2 linked regions of the Homo sapiens genome follow. The protein of the gene in region 2 purifies or fractionates together with the protein of the main gene of each other region. This does not show direct contact. Each region holds a gene or a part of one and is shown on either strand. Other genes may lie near its edges.

Region 1 (3,822 bases), on a different chromosome or scaffold from region 2:
GAAAAATATATTATAGACAGAAGACCAGATGAAGACACAGGAGGAAGACAGCCATCTGTAAGCCAAGAGAAGAGGCTTCAGAGAAAACCAACCCTGCCAAGACCTTTAACTCAGACATCTAGGCTCCAGAATTGTGAGAAAATAAATTTATGTTGTTGCCTATAATCCCAGCACTTTGAGAGGCTGAGGCGGTAGGATCACTTGTGTCCAGGAGTTTGAGACCAGCCTGGGCTGGTCTTTGTAGACCCTGTCTCTATAAAGAAATAAAAAATTAGGCTGGGCACAGTGGCTTACGCCTGTAATCTCAGGACTTTGGGAGGCTGAGGAGGACGGATCACTTGAGGTCAGGAGTTCGAGATCAGCCTGGCCAAAATGGTGAAACCTCTCTCTACTAAAAATACAAAAATTAGCCAGGCGTGGTGGTGGGCACCTGTAATCTCAGCTACTCAGGAGACTGAGGCAGGAGAATCACTTGAATACAGCAGGTAGAGGTTGCAGTGAGCCGAGATTGCACCACTGCACTCCAGTCTGGGCAACAGAGTGAGACTCCGTCTAAAAAAAAAAATAAATAAATAAATAAATAAATAAAAAATTAGCTGGCGGCCAGGCGCAGTGGCTCACACCTGTAATCCCAGCACTTTGGGAGGCCAAGGCGGGTGGATCACCCATGGTCAGGAGTTTGAGACAAGCCTGGCCAACATGGCAAAACCCCGTTTCTACTAAAAATACAAAAATTAGCCGGGTGTGGTAGCAGACGCCTATAATCCCAGCTACTCTGGAGACTGAGGCAGGAGAATCATTTAAACCTGGGAGGCGGAGGTTGCAGTGAACCAAGATCCCATCACTCCACTCCAGTCTGGGTGACAGAGCGAGACTCCATCTCAAAAAAAAAAAAAAAAAATTAGCTAGGCATGGTGGTACATGCCTGCAGTCCCAACTATTCAGGAGGCTGAGGCTGCAGAATTGCTTAAGCCTGGGAGGTTAAGGCTGCAGTGAGCCATGATTGTGCCACTGCATTTCTGCATTTAGCCTGGGTGACAGAGTGACTGTTTTTTTTTTTGTTTTTTTTTTTTAGACGGAGTCTTGCTCTGTAGCCCAGGCTGGAGTGCAATGGTGCGATCTCAGCTCACTGCAAACTCTGCCTCCCGGGTTCAAGCGATTCTCCTGCCTCAGCCTCTCAAGTAGCTGGGATTACAGGTGTGCACCACCATACCCAACTAATTTTTGTATTTTTAGTAGAGACGAGGTTTCACCATGTTGGCCAGGCTGGTCTTGAACTCCTGACCTCGTGATCTGCCCGCCTCGGCCTCTCAAAGTGCTAGGATTATAGGCATGAGCCACCGCGCCCGGCAACAGAGTGAGACTCTTGTCTCAAAAAACACACACACAAAAATCTGTTGTTTAAGCTACTCTCTCAAGAAAAAAAGACAGAAAGAAAGAAAAGAAAAACATAATGACGTTCAGAAACAGGAAGAAATGGTTTCCTTCATCTTGCTAAAGTGAAAAGCTACTTGTCACAAAGCTCAATGCCATTTTACCAGCTTCTCCAGGATCATCCTCACGTAACATAACAGCACTGATAGTTACATCTTCTGTTATACTGTGGGGCTCTGTGTTTGTGAACAGCCCGGAACGCTGTGATGAAAATGCAGCTGCCCAGTTACTGTCATCCAGATTAGTAACCTTAAAAAAAAACAAAAAAGTAAAAATACAGAAAAGTGATGGAGTTATTGTCACTGAGTGGATACTTTAAAAACAAATAAGGTTTCTAAAAATTATATGTATGTATGCGTCTTTTTTTTTTTTTTTCCCTTCTTGAGATAAGGTCTGGATCTGTTGCCCAGGCTGGAGTTCAGTGGCACGATCATGGCTCAACGCAACCTTTGCCTCTCAGGCTCAAGCCATCTTCCCACTTCAGCCTCCCAAGTAGCTGGGACTACAGGCACGTGCCACCACGCCTGGCTAATTTTTGTATTTTTGGTAGGTATGGGGTTTCACCATGTTGGCCAGGCTGGTCTCAAATTCCTGGCCTCATGTGATCCACCTGCCTCAGCCTCCCAAAATGCTGGGATTACAGATGTGAGCCACCATGCCCGGCTACTATAGTGTATTTTTAATACTTAGGTGAAGTCATTCTGCATCACAGCTTACATAACATTTCTTTTGCTATTTTTAATACTGTTCCATAGTGATTCCTAAAGAGTATCTCACCTACTTTTTCCAATTTTCTCTTTTATCCCCTTTAATACATTTTATCTCTTCCTTAAGATATTCTTCATCTGTTAACCTCTGATTCCTACTCTTGTATGCTTCAAAACAGGGATCAGATTTTATAGCCATCAGCAACCAACCACAGCATGTACTTCTTCTGGTCAGCAAACTGACAGATTAAAACATCTTATTTTCATCTAAAGGTTGCTGGTGTCACAGTTTCCATCTGTGATATCAGATGCATAAGGTTTTCAGTTTTTTTACTGTCTAATTATTTCAATCCATATAACCTAAAGTTACTGTTATGATGATTCTGACTCAATATTTGTTAAAAGACTTTTACATCAAATATCATATTTTTATAAAAAGGGAGAAGTTCTTTTTTCTCTTTTTTTTTTCTTTTGCAATCACAGGTCACTGCAACCTCTGCCTCCTGGGTTCAAGCAATTCTCACACCTCAGCCTCCCGAGCAGCTAGGATTACAGGCATAAGCCACCACTCCCAGCTAATTTTTTTATTGTTAGTAGAGACAGGGTTTTATCATGCTAAGCAGGCTAGTCTCAAACTCCTGACTTCTGGGAGGCCAAGGCGGGAGAATCACTTGAGGTCAGGAGTTCAGGGAGTGCTGAGATTACAGATGTGAGCCACCACACTCGACCCAAAAGGAGTTCTTAGCCCTATTTTTCTACATACCATGGAGAGATTTCCAAAGAACCCTGAAGACTGCGTAAGTCGGGGCGACTTCCCTCCTGTTCCAAGAATGCAGGAAATATCTGGCTGCCTTAGTAAGCTTCGGCTTGTTGGGGTAACTATAAACAAAAGGTTGGTAGAAAGAACCTAAAGTGCGTGAGCATTCATTATCAAAACAAAGTAAGCAAACAAACAATGAAGAATAAATTTTTCAGTTTTCCATTATTTAGACTCTAACCAAATAAATACTTTAAATGTTAACATTTCCATGATACAAGGATTTAACTTATTTTTCTAAATTTGAGCTGTAGGTACTACTGAGCCTAACAGGAAACATTTTACTGCAATTACAGATGCTTTCATTATAGAATAACTGAGCAGTTAAAGACACTAATCAGTCAACGGATTCTTCATATTTTAATTTTATAAGGCATACTGAGGCAGTGCAGTGTAGTGGGCATAAACTTTGGAGTAAACAGATCATTGTTTGAATCCCAGTTCCATTATTTACATACTCTTTTTTTTCTGTCTCAGAACAAAAAAAGAGTATGTAAATAATGGAACTGGGATTTTTTTTTTTTTTGCTCTGTCGCCCCAGCTGGAGTACAGTGGCACAATCTCAGCTCACTGCAACCTCTGCCTTCCGGGTTCAAGCAATTCTCCTGCCTCACCCTCCGGAGTAGCTGGGATTACAGGCATGTGCCACCACGCCAGCTAATTTTTGTATTTTTAGTAGAGATAGGGTTTTGCCATGTTGGCCAAGCTAGTCTTGAACTCCTGGCCTTAAGTGATCCACCCACCTTGGCCTCCCAAAGTGTTGAGATTATAGGCATGGGCCACTGCATCCAGCCTATTTACATACTTATTGTATATATTAGTTAACTTCTCTAAGTCTCACTTTCAGTTTTGGTAAAACAGGGC
Region 2 (3,822 bases):
CGCATTAGTAAGTTACAGGAAGACACTTCTGCTCACCAGAATGTTGTTGCTGAAACCTTAAGTGCCCTTGAGAACAAGGAAAAAGAGCTGCAACTTTTAAATGATAAGGTAGAAACTGAGCAGGCAGAGATTCAAGAATTAAAAAAGAGCAACCATCTACTTGAAGACTCTCTAAAGGAGCTACAACTTTTATCCGAAACCCTAAGCTTGGAGAAGAAAGAAATGAGTTCCATCATTTCTCTAAATAAAAGGGAAATTGAAGAGCTGACCCAAGAGAATGGGACTCTTAAGGAAATTAATGCATCCTTAAATCAAGAGAAGATGAACTTAATCCAGAAAAGTGAGAGTTTTGCAAACTATATAGATGAAAGGGAGAAAAGCATTTCAGAGTTATCTGATCAGTACAAGCAAGAAAAACTTATTTTACTACAAAGATGTGAAGAAACCGGAAATGCATATGAGGATCTTAGTCAAAAATACAAAGCAGCACAGGAAAAGAATTCTAAATTAGAATGCTTGCTAAATGAATGCACTAGTCTTTGTGAAAATAGGAAAAATGAGTTGGAACAGCTAAAGGAAGCATTTGCAAAGGAACACCAAGAATTCTTAACAAAATTAGCATTTGCTGAAGAAAGAAATCAGAATCTGATGCTAGAGTTGGAGACAGTGCAGCAAGCTCTGAGATCTGAGATGACAGATAACCAAAACAATTCTAAGAGCGAGGCTGGTGGTTTAAAGCAAGAAATCATGACTTTAAAGGAAGAACAAAACAAAATGCAAAAGGAAGTTAATGACTTATTACAAGAGAATGAACAGCTGATGAAGGTAATGAAGACTAAACATGAATGTCAAAATCTAGAATCAGAACCAATTAGGAACTCTGTGAAAGAAAGAGAGAGTGAGAGAAATCAATGTAATTTTAAACCTCAGATGGATCTTGAAGTTAAAGAAATTTCTCTAGATAGTTATAATGCGCAGTTGGTGCAATTAGAAGCTATGCTAAGAAATAAGGAATTAAAACTTCAGGAAAGTGAGAAGGAGAAGGAGTGCCTGCAGCATGAATTACAGACAATTAGAGGAGATCTTGAAACCAGCAATTTGCAAGACATGCAGTCACAAGAAATTAGTGGCCTTAAAGACTGTGAAATAGATGCGGAAGAAAAGTATATTTCAGGGCCTCATGAGTTGTCAACAAGTCAAAACGACAATGCACACCTTCAGTGCTCTCTGCAAACAACAATGAACAAGCTGAATGAGCTAGAGAAAATATGTGAAATACTGCAGGCTGAAAAGTATGAACTCGTAACTGAGCTGAATGATTCAAGGTCAGAATGTATCACAGCAACTAGGAAAATGGCAGAAGAGGTAGGGAAACTACTAAATGAAGTTAAAATATTAAATGATGACAGTGGTCTTCTCCATGGTGAGTTAGTGGAAGACATACCAGGAGGTGAATTTGGTGAACAACCAAATGAACAGCACCCTGTGTCTTTGGCTCCATTGGACGAGAGTAATTCCTACGAGCACTTGACATTGTCAGACAAAGAAGTTCAAATGCACTTTGCCGAATTGCAAGAGAAATTCTTATCTTTACAAAGTGAACACAAAATTTTACATGATCAGCACTGTCAGATGAGCTCTAAAATGTCAGAGCTGCAGACCTATGTTGACTCATTAAAGGCCGAAAATTTGGTCTTGTCAACGAATCTGAGAAACTTTCAAGGTGACTTGGTGAAGGAGATGCAGCTGGGCTTGGAGGAGGGGCTCGTTCCATCCCTGTCATCCTCTTGTGTGCCTGACAGCTCTAGTCTTAGCAGTTTGGGAGACTCCTCCTTTTACAGAGCTCTTTTAGAACAGACAGGAGATATGTCTCTTTTGAGTAATTTAGAAGGGGCTGTTTCAGCAAACCAGTGCAGTGTAGATGAAGTATTTTGCAGCAGTCTGCAGGAGGAGAATCTGACCAGGAAAGAAACCCCTTCGGCCCCAGCGAAGGGTGTTGAAGAGCTTGAGTCCCTCTGTGAGGTGTACCGGCAGTCCCTCGAGAAGCTAGAAGAGAAAATGGAAAGTCAAGGGATTATGAAAAATAAGGAAATTCAAGAGCTCGAGCAGTTATTAAGTTCTGAAAGGCAAGAGCTTGACTGCCTTAGGAAGCAGTATTTGTCAGAAAATGAACAGTGGCAACAGAAGCTGACAAGCGTGACTCTGGAGATGGAGTCCAAGTTGGCGGCAGAAAAGAAACAGACGGAACAACTGTCACTTGAGCTGGAAGTAGCACGACTCCAGCTACAAGGTCTGGACTTAAGTTCTCGGTCTTTGCTTGGCATCGACACAGAAGATGTAAGTACCTGGGATTTAAATGCCATTTCTCGGTTTACATGACTAGTGGACACTCAGTAAATGTTTGTCTAATTGAAATGTACATTAAACCTAAGTTAAAATATTTTTAGGGTTCAAGGAAATAAAATACACCAAAATATTTTCAAAACAAACCAGAACTTGAGGAAAATGAGTAAACGTTATTTGAGGAATAAATTTCTATAGGGATTAGATTTACATAGCATTATATAGAATATTACTAAAGATGTTTTTAAAGTCTGGAGAAAATTATATTATGGAGTCAGAAAGTCTTTAGAATGTGTGTTTCCACCCTTTGTGCATTAATAAAGTATACTGAAATAATTAAGAACTTACAAATGGTAATATGTAAATTTTTAATCTCTCCCACTTTTCAGACTATTTTTGATGTTATGGCATTATCGTCATGAAACTAAATACAGCAGATTCTTTATGTATTACTAAACAGTTTTCTCTCTAACAATTTACTGTGGTACAAAAATATGATTTGGTATAAGTCATTTAAAAGGGCTTTTAAAAAATTGAATACATATTTGTTTAATTGCTTGTAACTTTGTCCTTTCTAGCCTGCTAGCTTAATTAATAATGCTATATAGTGTATGCATGTCACTTGATTTCCTCTGTCTATCTCTGTGAGGTAGAGAAGGCAGGTCATGGTGAGGTGATGGCAGGTGTAGGTGCAACAGCAGATCCCCAGTTTACAGATGAGAGGAAAGTGAGGCTCAAATATGTAATTTATCCAATAATGTACAGTAAGTGCTGGATTGGGGATTAAGTCCTTGGACTGGGAATCTGGTTATGAAACTTTACTGCCTTATTAAAGAGTATCATAAATGCTGAAGGTGGAAGCTGAGCATTTTGTTAGCCTCTTATTTAATAATTACAAAGAGATTTCATATTTAGGCTACCTGAATATTCTTAGCAAGGGAAAAATATGAAATTTAAATACATTACAAATTGTAATTGAGCCGAAGGGTTTGTCTTCAAGATAAATGCCTAACCCCAGTGTCTTGCCCATAGGGGCCACTTACTGAACGTATAAGTATGTTGAACATTTGAATGAAGAGAGAAAGATGTAGTGGGAAATTCACCACTTTAAGAGATGTGTTTAGCAGAGGCCACGCATCAGTTTCTAAAAAGTAATAACTAAATCTATTCTATTTTGATTCTTTTTGAAAAATAAAATGCATGCTTGTTATGTATTATAATTACAGGCTATTCAAGGCCGAAATGAGAGCTGTGACATATCAAAAGAACATACTTCAGAAACTACAGAAAGAACACCAAAGCATGATGTTCATCAGATTTGTGATAAAGATGCTCAGCAGGACCTCAATCTAGACATTGAGAAAATAACTGAGACTGGTGCAGTGAAACCCACAGGAGAGTGCTCTGGGGAACAGTCCCCAGATACCAATTATGAGCCTCCAGGGGAAGATAAAACCCAGGGCTCTTCAGAATGCATTT

What was found.
Region 1: the proteins of CENPF (region 2) and NUP107 purify together in Homo sapiens (affinity purification with western blotting; one study listed by BioGRID and IntAct). This does not show direct contact.

What each region holds. Positions count from the first base shown.
Region 1 is NC_000012.12:68,689,829-68,693,650, reverse strand, and holds part of NUP107 (nuclear pore complex protein Nup107), read right to left. Parts: intron 3,049-3,822; coding exon of another isoform or gene 3,021-3,048; coding exon 2,905-3,020; intron 1,684-2,904; coding exon 1,539-1,683; intron 1-1,538. UniProt on the Homo sapiens protein: Plays a role in the nuclear pore complex (NPC) assembly and/or maintenance. Required for the assembly of peripheral proteins into the NPC. May anchor NUP62 to the NPC. Involved in nephrogenesis.
Region 2 is NC_000001.11:214,640,988-214,644,809, forward strand, and holds part of CENPF (centromere protein F), read left to right. Parts: coding exon 1-2,337; intron 2,338-3,569; coding exon 3,570-3,822. UniProt on the Homo sapiens protein: Required for kinetochore function and chromosome segregation in mitosis. Required for kinetochore localization of dynein, LIS1, NDE1 and NDEL1.